Regions from separate parts of the Homo sapiens genome. Here region 1 is linked to region 2. Evidence: fine-mapped expression QTL. A gene starts in region 2. The other region holds a variant in brackets. All regions are shown on one strand. Distances are between the middles of the regions.

What was found.
Region 1: its variant is fine-mapped to the expression of WDR17 in nasal epithelium (TOPMed, PIP above 0.99). The same link has a PIP of 0.9 or more in aorta, coronary artery and tibial artery.

Annotation. Positions count from the first base shown.
Region 1 is chr4:176,126,717-176,135,066 of GRCh38, forward strand. WDR17 (WD repeat domain 17) reads left to right here. Exons shown (of 29, transcript NM_181265.4): 6 at 2,022-2,144; 7 at 4,838-5,022. Among named protein-coding and RNA genes, the nearest start is that of SPATA4, 65 kb to the right of the region's middle. The variant T/C (reference allele first, on the strand shown) is at 4,108.
Region 2 is chr4:176,061,236-176,069,585 of GRCh38, forward strand. It overlaps WDR17 (WD repeat domain 17), which reads left to right and starts at 4,606. Exons shown (of 29, transcript NM_181265.4): 1 at 4,606-4,844. RefSeq lists a silencer at 4,482-4,861.

The DNA of each region.
Region 1 (8,350 bases), 65 kb after region 2:
TTGAATTGTCATTGCCATGATCCCCAACTGTCAAGGCCGGACCCAGCTGGAGCTAATGGGATCATGGGGGCCACAGTTTACCCTATGCTGTTCTCATGATAATGAGTGAGATCTCACGAGATCTGATGGTTTTATAAGTGTCTGGCATTTCTCCTGTTTGCCCTCACTCCATTCCACTGCCCTGTGAAGAAGGTGCCTGCTTCTACTTTGCCTTCCACCATGATTGTAAGTTTCCTGAGGCCTCCTCAGCCATGCAGAACTGTGAGTCAATTAAACCTCTTTTCTTTATAAATTACCCAGTCTTGGGTATGTCTTTATAGCAGTGTGAGAACAGACTAATACAATAATCTGGAAATGATTTAAAGTATACGAGAAAATATGCATAGGTTATATGCAAATAATATGCCACTTTATGTAAGAGACTTGAGCATTCCTGGATTTTGTTATCCGTGGGAGGTCCTGGAACCAATCTCCCATGGATAACAAGGGGCAACTGCACATGAAAGTAGATGGATTCTTAATTTATATATCTTAATTGCCTTTAACTTTTCAGGATATAATTAATAATAGGCATGGAATTTTTTTTTTTTTTTTGAGACAGTGTCTCGCTCTGTCACCCAGGCTGGAGTGCAGTGGTGCAATCTTGGCTCACTGCAACCTCCACCTCTGGGTTCAAGTGATTATCCTGCCTCAGCCTCCCGAGTAGCTGAGATTGCACTGTGGTGCATGCCACCATACCTGGCTAATTTTTCTATTTTTAGTAGAGACGGTGTTTTACCATGTTGGCCAGGCTGGTCTCAAACTCCTAACCTCAAGTGATCCACCTGCCTCAGCCTCCCAAAGTGCTGGGAATACAGGCATGAGCCATCATGCCCAGCCCAATAGGCACGGAAATTGTTTTGTATTTTATTACTATTACTGAAATATGCTTCACATATAAAATTCACCATTTTTAAAGCATGCAGTTCAGTGGTTTCTAGTATATTCACAAAGCTCTACAATTATTACCACTATCTAATTAACATATCATTATTCCCCCAACAAACCCTGTACTCATCAGCAGTTACTCTCCATTACTGCCTCCCTACAGTCCCGGATACACACATGTGCAAGCATAAACTGCTAATTACTTTCTATCTCTGTGGACTTGCTTCTTCTGGACATTTCATATAAATGGAACCATTCAGTCTGTTGCCTTTTGTTTCTGGCTTCTTTCACTTAACATAGAGTTTTCAAGGTTCATCCATGTTATAGCATGTATCAGTACTTCATTCCTTTTTATGGCTGAATAATATGTCATTATATGGATATGGCAGGTTTTGTTTATCCATTCCTCTGTTGATAGACAGACGCATTGTTTCCACCTTTTTGCTGATATAGATAATGCTGCTATGAACATGTATGTACAGGTTTTGGTATGGACCTTTGCTTATAATTCTGTTGAGTATTTCTCAAGGAGAGGAATTGCTAAGTCATATGGTAATTCTATATTTAATCGTTTGTGTAACTGCCAGACTTTTCTCCATAGCAGTAATTAAGATGGGAATTTTGGAAGAAAGGAGACTGTAATTGGTCTTCAGGTATATTTGACAATCCTTAATGGCTAAAAGTGGACAGTGGAGCAGTTTATAAACATTTCAAAGGTGGAAAGATTGATTATTTAAGGTTAGAAATGGAGAGTTTTCTGTGGCTGGCCTTTCCTAGAACAAGCATATGTCAATAGGGTCTTTTTTTGTGGTTGAGTTATTATAATGGTCTTTATTGGAGGAAGCTGCCAAAACAGGCCGTTTCTAAACCTATAAAAGGTTTTGGAGCAAAAAAATAGTAAAACATGCCAAAAATTTAAAGGTTAAATAGTATTTCGGTTGTTAGGTTGTATTACTGTATGGTATTGTTGTTAAAAGGATGTCAGTAATTAGTCCTAAAATATTTCCAGTTGAAATTTTGTTATACTTTTATGTCTAGGCATTTTAGTTTCATACAAAACTTGTTAAAATGTGCTTTTTCCCTGATCTGACTAGATTCTCAAGTGGGTGTTTTACGCATTTGGAATGTTTCAAGAACAACACCTATTGATAATCTTAAATTAAAGAAAACAGGATTTCACTGCTTACATGTACTTAATTCTCCTCCAAGAAAAAAGTGTAAGTAAAAATGTTATCAAAATTTTAATTTTTAAAAAATATTGTGTTTTCTATCAAATAAAATGGTATAGTGAGATATCAAATACTATATGCCACTGAAAAGCAATTTTTAAAAAAGGCTTTGACAATATATGTGCTCAAGGATCCATCAAAGCTACACAAGATCTACTGTTACTAAATTGAAAATATTTAGAGTCAAGTTACATTTTTTAATGCTACTAAGTAAGAATATTTAGATAATTTCAGATTATCTACATGGAAAAGATGAATCAATGATACTGATGAAAATAAGTTAGAAATATTAAGAGTGATAGGATTAAATAAGATTATCTGAACTGGGAGAATTTATGTTTTAAACATGGCTCATTTAAAATCTGTACAGTTTACAACGAAGTTAAAACAACCTAAATATTCAAATTATAGGATCTAGAATACATATTACATATTTGAATACCAGTTGTCACTAAGTTAGTAGTTAGTATTATGGATCTTCTGTGTCTTCTTTATTTCTGTGTATATTTTCTGTATCATTCGTTGCCTCTGTAATTAAGAAAAAATAAAATACACTTAATTTATAAAAAGGAAAAATCTGGAAATTTGGGGGAGGTTTAGAATTAGAATTTTTTTCAAATATAAGGGAAAAATAATAGACTTCCAGTTAAGTCTATCATGATTACTCTGCATGGTTGGTAGTGTTCCCATTCTGTATAACACATCATTAAAAGCATGGGGAAGGGATTTCAGTGATGAAAAGTTTAGAGTGATTGTTTCCTTCTTACTCTATCTTTATAATATACCAAGTAATTAGCAATGGCTATTCAAAGTAATGTTATTTTGGTGTCTAATTGGTAGGCAATGGCAAGTAGTAGAAAATCTCTATATTTGAACCTATACCCCTTGTACAAAATTGTGAAGTCCCTAATAAATGTAGAACCTGGAAACTGGAGGGTCTAGAAATATTAGGACTAGAGAAGTAATATGCTGGATGCTGGCTTACTGTTTAGGGATGTTGGAATTTTTTTGTCATTGTTAGTTCCTTTATTTGTTTAGAAGCTTTGAACTGCCATGTCATGGAATGTCTGAAATACCAGATTCTTTTCTTTCATTTTTTTTCTTACTATAAAAGTAGCCCATGTCCATTAGACAAAGTCAGAAAATACAAAGAATAACATACCAGTCTTGTCATTTTCGAGCAATTCCTTTCAGATTACCTCTTCTTTGACTTCTAGGTTTTCCCTTCAATTTAATATAACAGAAAGTATGGAAAAAGAACAATTGTGAAAATGAAATTTTAAAAAATAAACGTACTCGCTGAATTCTGAAAAGCATGATTTACAAATAGATTGGTGCATAAAAGTTGTCTAACCCACCTATAATGTCAATTAAAGTGTTAGAAAAACCAATGATGGATTATATTAATTTTTAAACAAAATATCAACGAAATTTAGTGAACCAAATTCATTGCTACCAAATGCCTCTTTTGTCATTTGTAGTTCATTCTAGTTTGGACTTTCTGTAATTCTCAGATTCTGAGAAATGAATATTATCCATAATAAATGAACTAAGAAAAATTGTATTTTAATATTAAAAATACTGAGAAATGGCCGGGCGCGGTGGCTCATGCCTGTAATCCCAGCACTTCGGGAGGCCAAGGCGGGCAGATCACAAGGTCAGGAGATCGAGACCATCCTGGCTAACACAGTGAAACCCTGTCTCTACTAAAAATACAAAAAAATTAGCCGGGCGTGGTGGCAGGAGCCTGTAGTCCCAGCTACTGGGGAGGCTGAGGCAAGAGAATGGCGTCAACCTGGGAGGCGGAGCTTGCAGTGAGCCGAGATCATGCCACAGCACTCCAGCCCGGGCAACAGAGCGAGACTCCGTCTCAAAAAAAAAAAAAAAAAAACTGAGAAATATTTTCCATATTCCAGTGTACAATTAATAATCGATTGGTCTTATAATTTAC[T/C]GTAGTGTCATTATTTTGGATTATGTTTGCAAGAAAATATTTGGATTCACATTCTAAGGAAGAGCTTTTTGGAAGAAGACAAAATATGGGATAAATAATATATAAAAATAATCACAGTGATATTTATGTAATTGAAAGTAGGAGAAATCCAAGTCTATAAACAGTAAAAAGAAAAAACAAACAAAAAAACATCTAGGAAGAAAGAAAATTGAGATGCCAGTGCAGGTCAGATAGTGTTGTGATTCTTAATTTATGATAAATTAAAATGAATTATGCATAATCTCAAAAAAATTATTTTCACTGGCTTGGAAATTGTTGGCAGAGAGTTATTTATATTAAAAGAAAAAATTATATGCATATATGTTTGTGTGTGTGGAAGGAGGGAATAAGCTATTATGTCAGTATTTTGAAGGAAGTTTATAATTCAGAAATAATCATGCTGAGCTTTAATTTATAGGGTGATAAGAAACCACATATTCACAACAGATTGTGATTCCTCAACACACTAATTTTCATCTATTTGCTCCATCTGTACTTTAAAATAATATCCAATTTTGTGCTTATATTACATTTTTTGGCAATCCCAAAGAACTGCTTATGTGGGAGAATATATGATCATTGCCTAAATGGTTTACTGGTACAGATTCTGGATTTTTTTTTTAATGAAGAATCTTTCTAAATTAAGCTCTGTGGTTTCATTCCAATAGGATTTTTTTTCTTCTATTTTTAGTTTCAGTCCAATCTCCAACCAAAAATCATTATACATCCTCAACAAGCGAAGCAGTTCCACCCCCAACTTTAACACAGAATCAAGCATTTTCTCTTCCTCCTGGTCATGCAGTGTGTTGTTTCTTGGATGGTGGAGTTGGACTTTATGATATGGGAGCTAAGAAGTGGGATTTTCTTAGAGACTTGGTATGTATGTAGTCATTCCTTTATTATACATAATAGTTTTTTGTGTAAACCCATGATCTTTACTTTTACCTGTCTGAATATTATTTGAAATTATTTTTGTAAGTAATAATATACTAGAAATTTATTGTAGCTGGTTGAAACATTTTAGAAAATGCATAGAATGATGATAAAACTACTAAAATAACTTTTAACCACTATACTTCAAAAGTCTTAATGTCTACTTATATTTTATGTACAATGGAAAATTACATAGCTGTAGTATATTTTGGAAGCAAAATGAGAATAGAATGTCCTTTCAAGAGAAAGGACAAGTTGATCTCTGCCAGTTGCTCAAAGCCTTATTGTTCCCATTTGTTAATTGAGTAACGTTGGATTATGTTTTCTAAGATTTGTTTCTATTGTTGAATCGCTATGATACTTAAGTGATTCTATGAATTCTGTTTTTATGATAATTAAGCCCCTATATAAGATAGAATACAACCTCCTTGAGATCCCACATTTTTGTCTGGTTGTGTTCTGTGGTACAGCCCCACTACCTAATATAGTATCTGCCACATAGCAAGACTATTAAATTTTGTTGAATGAATGAATGAAGACATGCAATAATACATACTGCGTTGTAATTAATATTTGTCAAAAACAATCCTCTTTAATTTTCCCTACTTTAGAGTTTCTAAAAATGTCCCTGTCTTTTTCCACTGGTTTGAATTAGACTAATCTGGACATTTAAGAAACCTTTAAATGCTAATTATTTTCCTTTGATCTTAGAAAAAGAATCTAGAGATGTAATTGTCCTTGTAACTGAAGGGAGAGAAAGAATCAATAATATTGTATCTTTTCAAGACTGCTCGTTTAATTTTATCCTCAAATGAAAAAATGATTTATAGCAAAAATATTTTTAAAATAATCTGTAGCTTAATTATTTTTGAATTTTCCTTTTGTAGATATTCATTTGAAGATGATTTAATTTTCTTTTCACTTTAACTTTTCTTTTTATATAAACTCTTTCCTAGTGTGGTAAACTTTTTGTATACTTCAAATTACCATTTGTTTTCAAACAAATTTATGAAAGGGAAGGGAGAAAAACATAAGAATACACTTAAATCTATAAAAAAAAACTAGTAAGAACAGCAGGATATACTGTTTCCTACACTTGTTTCACTAGACCAACCAGAATGACTTCTGTAGAATTTTGCTGATATGTCCTGAGTTGCTTTACATCAGCACTGGGTTGAGTCACTAAATCTGGCAGTGGGTCTTCAACAAGACAATTCTTCATTTCTGAATAAAACTGTGCTTAGCTCACCAATTCCTAAAATCAGTTCAGGAGACAATTACATTGCAGCAACTCAAAAGAAAAAAGAAAAAATATACTAACATGAATCACACATGCCCCAAGTGCCATATATACCATTCGAAGAAAAAAAAAACAATTTTTTATTTTTATTTTTTTTTTTTTACCACTTCACTATTTAATTACAAGCAAAGTCCTCTGTGGTTCTCCTTGGTCTCCTCTCTCTAAAAAAAAAAAAAAAAGAAGAAGAAGAAGAAAAGAGAAAGGAAAATCACTTCCACCATTAACTCCTAATCTAAAAAGTAAATTCTGCCTTAAATAAAAATCTGGGTCTTTCTACTAAGCTAAAAAAAAAAAAAAAAAAAAAAAAAAGTTGTGTTAGTAGAAGAGAAGTCATGCAATCTAAATTCAATAAATTTTCTATGACACTTCGTATTAAAGTATGTTTTACTTAAAATCTATGTTAATTTATAATTCTAATAAATGCCGAATACTAAATACTAAAAGCCGCTTGATTATAAATTATTTCAGTTGCTTTTCTCACTTTAAAATGTCTGCCAGTCAGAGGGAGGCAGTCATTTTTTCCTTATAGTTTCAATTTTCTTAACACAGATCCAAATTTGAAATTTCTCGAAGTGTTACCAGAAGAAACAACTCTGAACTGCTGTATGTATGAAGCATCTGCAAAGATTCCAGATTACATAGGATGAGAAAAATATTATTAATATTTTTTAAAATCTTACATAATTTTAAAAATCTTATTAATAAACATTCTAAAAGGTGTACTTCCATATGAATATTTGCTCCATTAAAATTAAGAAAAATGCCACAAAATTTTCCTCGTCTTACTCACCTTCCTTTTGGTAAGAAGAAAACACAGAAGAAACATTTACAATTTTGTTCTTGCTATGTGAATTTTCTTATTTCAAAAAATAAAATTTTAAGGCATAGCAGTGAAATAACATTTAAAACTGCATGTAAGTCCCTGCCTGGATTATGTTCCTAACATTGGAAATGACCACATAGGACAGCTTCAGCCAGGTGAACCAGTGGTTCTAACAACATTTTTACTTCTTGCTAACCCTTGAGATTTTTCTTTCCTTTACCTCCACCTAAAGGAGAAACTTTACGAGTACTTTTGTAGTTTCCTAAGGGTTGTGATTTCTGGTATTAATGGAAGTACACAGAGTTTTAAGGACTTTCTTCTCTACCCTTATTCTATTTGTTGAGGACTAGAAAACCCTGTCTTTGTACTTCAACTCCGTCTCTAGATCCCAAATGTTAGTTTCGTTTGCTTAAAGTAGAAATTTCGATTCCCATTCCCCAGCATTTAGAATAGTTGTAATTCCGGCTATTTATGTTGGACTCTTAACGGATTTTCCCAAAGGCCCACAGTAGTTAAGCACTACTTTACTGGTGTATGTTTACATGTATCTGCATATACCACTTTATAGTCTTGTGGGTGTTTGGGATCCAAATCATTGTGTAATGGGAACAAGTATTCAGGTTCCAAAGAATAGACTTGCTAGAAAATTTTGGAACAAGGCTCATTAACAATTGGGGTTATGCCTGATTCTTCTGTTTCTGCCAAAATTATGAGGTGCTTTTGGAGTACGTTATTAGTATAAAAAAGGAATATTTGCATTAAATGACTTTTAGTTTGAGTTTCATCTTGGTCTTCTATTGTAGTGCCAGATGACATATGGTAACTATTAAGAGTTAATTGCTTTATAGATTTCTAGCATAGTATCCTGTAAGTTTAATAAAAATAGAAAATATCTTTTGCACTGAATTGAAACTGAAAAGTGAGACTTCTGAACATCTTTGAGTTTAGTTGCTGATTTGAGGAACCGTGGTTGACTAAAATCTAGGTCTGTACAAAATAATACAGTAATGGCACAGAGAACATTCAATCACTGTAGTGATTCCAGTTTTCTGTTTTTCTTGCCTATATATTTTTGCATTAATATTTGGAAAACCGTATACATGTGTCAATTTGAGTAAACATTGTGGTTCATCTATTAATAATGTGAA
Region 2 (8,350 bases):
ATTAAAACTATGAAAAGACAAGTGATAAATACATTTATGGGTAGAATTAACAACTCTCATATAGGTTCAATTAAAATTTTAGAAGTGAAAAATAGAATAAATATTCAAATAATGATGGAGAATTTTTACAACTGAAGATCTGGACTGATATTTGCAATGGGTATATCTAACACATAAACACCCTGAATATTTTAAAACCTAAAAAATCAATATGGAAAAGTTAAATATAGAAAAAAAAGGTAGTGAACAATTTATAAACTTAAAAAGATGTGTCATTCCAACAATTTCAGAAAGCACAAATTTAAATCATGTAGAGATATTACTATACATTCATTAGATTGAAAAAAGTATAAAACTCTGATGTTGATGATATGGAGCAGGAAAAGAGTTTCACTACTTTTTGCAATAGAGAAAAGTTCACACACTTATATGTTCATCAATAGGTAAATAATGATGATGCTATATTTTATATTCCTAATATAAGATATATATCATATAAATATATATACTTATATGTACCAATATTATAAAATTTTAAAATAAATGACAGAAAATAAAGCAAATTTAGAAAGTATATTTATCTGTTAGATTAGCTACATCTGGTTAAAATGAGAGAGTAATCAAATGACAAGAGAAAAAAGGAGAACTTCACTACCTATAATTTTTTTTTTTTTTTTTTTTGAGACAGAGTTTTGCTCTGTCGCCCAGAGTGGAGTGCAGTGGCACAATCTCGGCTCCCTGCAACCTCCACCTCCCGGGTTCAAATGATTCTCCTGCATCAGCTTCCCGAGTAGCTGGGACTACAGGAGCTCACCACCACGCCCAGCTAATTTTTTTGTATTTTTAGTAGAGACGGGGTTTCACCATGTTGGCCAGGATGGTCTCAATCTCTTGACCTCGTGATCAGCCCACCTTGGCCTCCCAAATTGCTGGGATTACAGGTGTGAGCCACCACATCCAGCCAATTTTTTTTTTCAAAGACAACGCAAATATGACAAAAACAAAATTTATTAACTATAGATATTTATTGCATTATTGTATGTACTTTCCTGTTTAAATATTTTACAATTTAAAAACAATTTTAAGAATTCTCTCAATATTGATCCTCTGGGCACAGTGGCTCATGCCTGTAATCCCAACACTTTCAGAGGCTGAGGCGGGCAGATTGCTTGAGGTCAGGATTTCGAGACCAGCCTGGCCAGCATAGTGAAACCCTGTCTCTACTAAAAATACAAAAAATTAGCTGGACGTGGTGGCACATGCCTGTAATCCTAGCTACTCAGGAGGCTAAGACAGGAGAATCACTTGAACCCTGGAGGCAGAGGTTGTGATGAGCCAAGAACATGCCACTACACTCTAGCCTGGGCAACAGAGTGACACTCTGTCTCAAAATAATAATAATAATAATAAATAAAGAATTCTATCAATATTGATCTAGAGAAAAAATATCAAATTTTCTGCAATTATTAAAAAAATAAAAGAATTCTATCAATATTGATCTAGAGAAAAAATCTCAATTTTCTGCAAAAATTATTGGTTAATTTAAGCCATTTTTATACCTCAAGAAGACCAAAGAGTAATAACCTCTAATATATTTCTTAATAGAAATAATAATATTTTGATATATTTAAATATATCTACCTTAATCATCAATATTGTGGCAATAGATTATATATCTATTTAAAACTATTTCAATTTTTAAGTGTTTTTACATAAAGTACATTTTTAAGTATTTAGTTCACTATTTACTGCACATTAGTTTAAGTTTTTTTTTCTGTTATACTTGTTTCTGCTCTCTTACCATTTTTACATTAAAAAAAAGTGTGAGAGGGCTTTTCAATTAGGTGAATCTAAAGTCTTTTTGGCTAAATTTTTCTAAAATTTTAGTTTAAGAAGTTTTTTTCTTGTTGATTTCTCATCCAGAATACATATTAAAAGGGCATTTGCCACATTAAATTGCATTGAACTTCCTTTTCAAAGCCATTGTACTCATAGAACATGTCTATCTATCCTTGAAGATGAATTTGACTGGAGTCATTTGGCTTCCCTAATCGCTCTGCTTTTAAATTTAATCATGAAGAACTCCGGGTACTCAGTGCTAAGAACTAATGATTGCCCTGAAAATGTCAGTCAGCCTAAGTGACTGACAATTTTTTCTTTGTGAGGTGAGTATATGACATTAAATACTGGTTGAATAAAAGAATAAAAAATCAGAGTAAAGAGATCTTTGTTTTATAAATTAGGTATATTGTTCCTCTAGATCTAATCTAACTATAGTTGTGATTATTTAAATCTGTTCAAAAGGAATGAACTAAATTCTGGTAAAGGAATAAGAGTCCTGAACTGGGAGACCGGGATCACTCTATCAAAATCTGCTGCTAATATGACTGGAGATTTAAACACCTTCATCTTTAAATTATGAGTGCACAACTAGATAATTTCAGTTGTCTCATTCAATTTTATGTTTCTTTCTTTTTCCTTTTTCTTTTTTTTCTTTTTTTTTTTTGAGACGGAGTCTCACTCTTGTCACCCAGGCTAAAGTGCAGTGGCGCAATCTCCGCCTTCTGGGTTCACGCCATTCTCCTGCCTCAGCCTGCCGAGGACCTGGAAGTACAGGTGCCCGCCACCACGCCCAGCTCATCTTGTATTTTAGTAGGAACGGGGTTTCACCACCACGCTGCCGTCAAACTCCTGACTTCAGGTGATCCGCCCACCTCGGCCTTCCAAAGTGCTGGGATTACGGGAGTGAAACACCGCGCCCGGCCGGTTTTTTGTTTCTTAACTGGAGAGCTGGAGCCATTATGAGCAAAATAAACATAAAAGATTTTTTCCGTCCAACCGATGGACTAAGCTAGACGTTGTATCTTCAGCATTTTCTCTTCATGTACACCATTGACTATTCAGCACTATACCTAGCAAATATCAGTCATAAATGAAAACTATAGTCTGTTTTCACAGAAATGTTTCTTGTGATTTTCCCTCTTCGCTATTCTTATTTTCATTGTCTTAACTCAGGTCATCAGCATCTTTTCCCATGAACTACTGAATTTTTCTCCTAACAGACCATGTTCTTCATCTTCCTGCATCCCATGTATCTCCAATGTTTCCAAGGTGTCTTTCTTGATGAAAAAGCACTGATTTTATAAACTTCAATCTCTTCCTTTGGTTTAGAGGTTAAAGCCTAACCCATATATAGAATTCTGCATCTTTCCCAATCAAGTTTTCTTATTTTTCTAGTACAGTCTTTTGCCAATTTCCATCTTCCTTCTTATCTTTGGATTCACATCCCCAACTCCGGAGAAGGCAAAAACATCAAATTTATTTACATCAATCGTTTATTTTTTCCCACTTTATGCTTTTGGCAATGCTGCTCCTGCTGCATAGTATACACTTTCCCCTTTTTATCAGGTGAAATTCTACCTATTTATAAGTCCCTGCTCAAATACTAATCATATTGAAAGCTTCTCTGAATACCTTGGAAGAAAAAGTTCTGCCTCCCTCATCTGAAATCATCTCATAGCACTTTTATGTAACCCTATTTTAGTACTTAACACATTGAGTTATATTTAGTTATTGCCCTTATACTTTCTCTGGTAGATTATGTGCTAATTTCTTTCTTTCTTTATCCATCTATCCATCAAGAATTAATTGAAGACCTGCTATTCATCAGATACTTTGTTAGAATATAGGGGACGGAGTTGTAAGAACTGATTTTAGCTTTAACAAGTTTATTCTTTATATGGAAATCCAACATTTAAGTTAATTTTAATTTACAATATAGAATATTGAGTGCTGTGGTAGGTACTCGTCTCTGCAGAGAATATTTTGGAAAAAAGGAGCATTAAAATCTACTGCATAGGAAGGTAAGAATTAGGCCCAGGGACTTTCTCTGGTTGAGGTCGACCATTCATTTATTAACTATTTAGAGTGGAGTATAATTAATTCTCGATAGATGTCATTAAATACACTTTGTTTCGAGTACGTCGAGGCTTATTCTCTCTAGTGTGTTGGATAAAGGCCACAGGTAGTGAAGATATTTCAGAGATGTGAAGAATCCAGTAGGAATGACAACATCCAGCACTTCCATTCAACCAGATCCCACAGGGAAAATGTCAGTTTTGTGAAGGCAGATACATTAACCACATACAACTCGATTAATATAAACAAATAATCTTATCCATTGAGCTCTCCCACAGACCTTCTTGGGCCCAATCAGACAATAATGAAGTGCAGGCGAGACAGCATTCTGCACTCACATTCCAGGCACTGGTTCAAGTCCCTCCTCCAGGTCCCTCAAGAAAGAGACAGGATGACTGACTTACTGTATATTTGACTCATTTTCCTAGAAAGTGCAGACTCGCTATAAAATGTGTTAGGTGGTGAGAACGCTGATGGTTCACCGTTTTCCTCCACTTTCAGCCTCAGTGCAAACCCTCTGCCCAAAGCCTCGCTCCAGTACGGAGGAGCTGCGCCTTCAACACACTTTCTCTGTTGCCAGGTAACCACTTCTCCCTCAGCCTAGTCTCCAAGGGTCACGAGCCACTTCCGCCTCCCCCTCTCGGGCGCTCCAATCAGCGACCTGTGTAGCTGTCACGTGGGCCTCTGGGGCAGACCCTGGAGATCGGGCTCGCGGCGCCTTCCATCGTGGCTCCGCGCTGGGGCTTGCGGAGCACGCTTCCCGCCCCTCGGAGCCCGCGGGCCCGGCCGCCCCGCCCCCGGGCGCCCTGAGCGAGCAGGCGGGGAGGGCGGGGAGGGTCCGCGCGTTGGTGGTGCTCGCCTCGCAGCTGCGCCCGCCGGCTTCAGCACCTTCCGCTGTCCGCCGCTGCAGCCGCCTCCTCCTCCAGGTAAGAAGCCGGTGGGGCCGCAGAGATACCAAGGCAAGCTCAGGATTGATGTGGGTGATGCTGGAACTGTCGCGGCGTCATGCGAGAGGGGCTCTGACCTCCCTGTGATCGCGGACCAGGGTAATGTACGTCCTGCAGGGCTTTGCACACCATGGTGCCTGATGAGATAATCAACTGAGTTTTAGAGCCACACACCTGATTCTTACAAGGCACAGCAAGCAGCGAATATTTATGTATCTAAACTACCATTGCAGTGTAAACTGTGGACATTTCGAGGGACATTGTTTTATTTTTATGGCTATTAAGTATATGTCTAGAGCCTAGGTTGCTGTTCTCATCCCTCCGCCGGCCAGACACTTCTGTATAGATCATTTACCCCTTTGAAGATGGACTTATTAGTAGGGTTGTACTAAGAAAGGTTTGAGTAAAAAGGAAATGCGTTCCAGAAAAAAGACGGTATTGGATATAAGGCAGGTATACTATTTATTAAGTAGATCGTAAAATAGAATCTTTGCTGTCCTCCCCTCTCCAAAATCAGACTTGTTTTGCTTGCAAAGATTGAAAGGAACAAACAATTTAAGGAGACTTTTTAAATATATTAATTAAAAGCAATTGATTCGAATGAAAAGTAATGAAAAGTCCGACCATGCATCAAAAATAAATTATTTTGCATATTAATATATACATATATACTATATATATTTAACAAGGGTTTGAAGAGAGATACTACATTTCTGAATCTTTCATAAATACCCTTTAGAGAAAACTATCAAAAAAACACAAGTTCGTTGTAAAAGGATACGAAACGGCCAAAGCCCAACAATGTGAGATTATAGTTGCCGTTCTTAGCACTCTAATAACATTTCTGCGTTGTAAAAATTAGAAAATAAATGACAATGAATTTATGAGAATTTATAAATTTGAACTCCACAAGAGTTTAAGCATTAATTTATTTGTAGATTTATGCCTTATCATTACCCTGCTTGCCAGGAGCTGATGCTGGGCGGGTGGTGAAACAAACTCTGTGGAGAAAGCACTCTTACATCCTTTTGAGATTCTGCCTCACTGGCCTAAGTGTTCAAGAAAATGGATATAGTTATATCTAACTGTTTTGAAGGCAGACGTCTGAGATAGGTGGTCTGAGAACCTTTCCCCTCCTATCATCTAAAATTAAATATAGTTATTAAGTGCTTTTGAAAAGTTGTCAATTCGTTAATATTTTGGGAAACATCCTTTACTGGATTGTTTGGAGATTAATGTTACAAATGGTAGCTTTAGAGTTCCTGGGAAGTTTTAAAGCAATGACTTATTTCAAAGGGCATATACGGAAAGTAAAGCTCTTGAGTTCTGCAAACGTAATTATGTAAAAATAACTAGTTGAATGTTATTGTTTACATTGTTCTGACTTTCTCTTGTGTTGATATTAATAGAACTGCTTAAAAAACTGTGGACATCTGAAGAAGACGTTAAATATGCTTACTTGAAAGTTTTAACATTCTTTATTCTTCTTATTTCTAATGATAAATAGTGGTGTTCTAAATATTTTTAAGTTACCCATTAGTCACATAAATAATTCCATAGATTAGAAAGCCATAAATTAATTTAGGCCAGAAAAACAATGCTCCCAGTAGAGGGGAGACTAGGGCTAGATTGCTTTTGTTGTTGCTGTTTTCTACAGACTCTATCTTGTATCCTTTAGTCTGGGAAAGGAGGGACAGGGCCAGTGGCAGTTTTTTAATTACTTGGAGAAGTTTAAGAACAGGTTTCTGTTTGTTTGTTTTATGGTTTTACCCTGATGGATACTAGAAGTCCAACATGAATGATTAGGTTGTCACTATTAATGAAATGTGTAAATTCTCCAGAGTACCTGATTTTGTTGCCTAAATACTTTAATGACGACTAAAATGTAATTCTGACAGTTTTGAAGGATTCACATTTTCATCCTATATTCCAGAATTTCTTTGAAATCTAACATATGCAAGAAAGGTAACGCTTTATCAGATTACTGAATTGTAATACTGAATACTTAAGAGTTTACCCAGCTATTCATGATAATTATGTATATGGAAGCATCATTGCTACTTTTGACCACTGCTGAATTATCTCATTTTACATTTTGTATACCTCTTCCATTGAACAGATGGAAATATTAAAGTGAAGTCATGTATCTTCCAGTACGTCTTCAGGAACAGAGATTTCATCGAAATTATATTAATTTATAGAAATCATATGAGGATAGGCTGCGTGCGGTGGCTCATACCTGTAATCCCGGCACTTTGGGAGGCTGAGGCAGGCGGATCACCTGAGGTGAGGAGTTTGAGACCAGTCTGGCCAACATGGTGAAACCCCATGTGTACTAATAATACAAAAATTAGCTGGGCGTGGTGGTGCACGTCTGTAATCCCAGCTACTTGGGAGGCTGAGGCATGAGAATCTCTTGAACCCAGGAGGCCCGGAGGTTGCAGTGAGCCAAGATTGCGCCACTGCATGCCAGCCTGGGCGACAGAGCAAGACAACGTCAAAAAAATTAAAGAAAAGAAAAAGAAAAAAAGGAGGATATTGGAAGGGATTTTTTATTAATTCATGCTCCTTTTCTTTTGTATCAGAAACATATGAAACTTAAGATTTGGTTGGTACTTTTTGATACCCAAGACTGTGCTTTATCCTGTTAAAATAGTATCGTGATTATTCTTTCATTGTTGATAAAACTATTCCTTGAAATTTGTGAGCAAGAAATTAGATACGGATACCTGAAGAGAATTTTAGAAATTCTCCCAAAGAATCTACTCTATAAGGAAACAAAACCTAGAGAAAAACATTTTTCTTATTTGAGTTTACTTAAAATGTTCACGAAGGACTTGCAACTTTGGTAATAAAAATTGGTAGAAATAATATAAAATGATCAGCTTTGTATAGTAAAAGAAAAATTCCCATCACGATTAATTAGAAAGATTTGAAAAGTTTCCATGCTTAAAGCATGGGCTGTCACATTAGAAGGCAGAGTTCAGGTTGTTTTCATCTGATTTCAGTGACTAGACAGGTATAATTTCAGTGACTAGTCAAACATTTCAAATAGGCTAGATTTTGTAAGAAAAAAAAAGAACTTGATATTGGAGCCACAGCTGGCACCTGCCTTCCAGATGTCACATTATCAGCTACTTGAGGAAAATAATTTATATATATATATTGATAAAAGTCTTACTTTTTATTATGTTAAATGTACTTACAAAGTATTGTTCAGTAAGCTGTCTTATAAAATTCTGTAATTCTACATTCTAATTTAAAAAATGTACTGTAGAAATAGACAGTAATATAAATCTATAATTAAGATAATACAGGAGGTAATTTAACAATGTTATTTGCTATGATAAGGATGATTGATAATTGTCATGTTCGGATAAATTGTAGCAAAAGTGTAAGAAATAAATTTCCATGTGTCAGTGAAGATGTTATAACAGTCAATACTTGTTTTGTACATTCAAATGTTCTGAGATGGAGAACTCAAG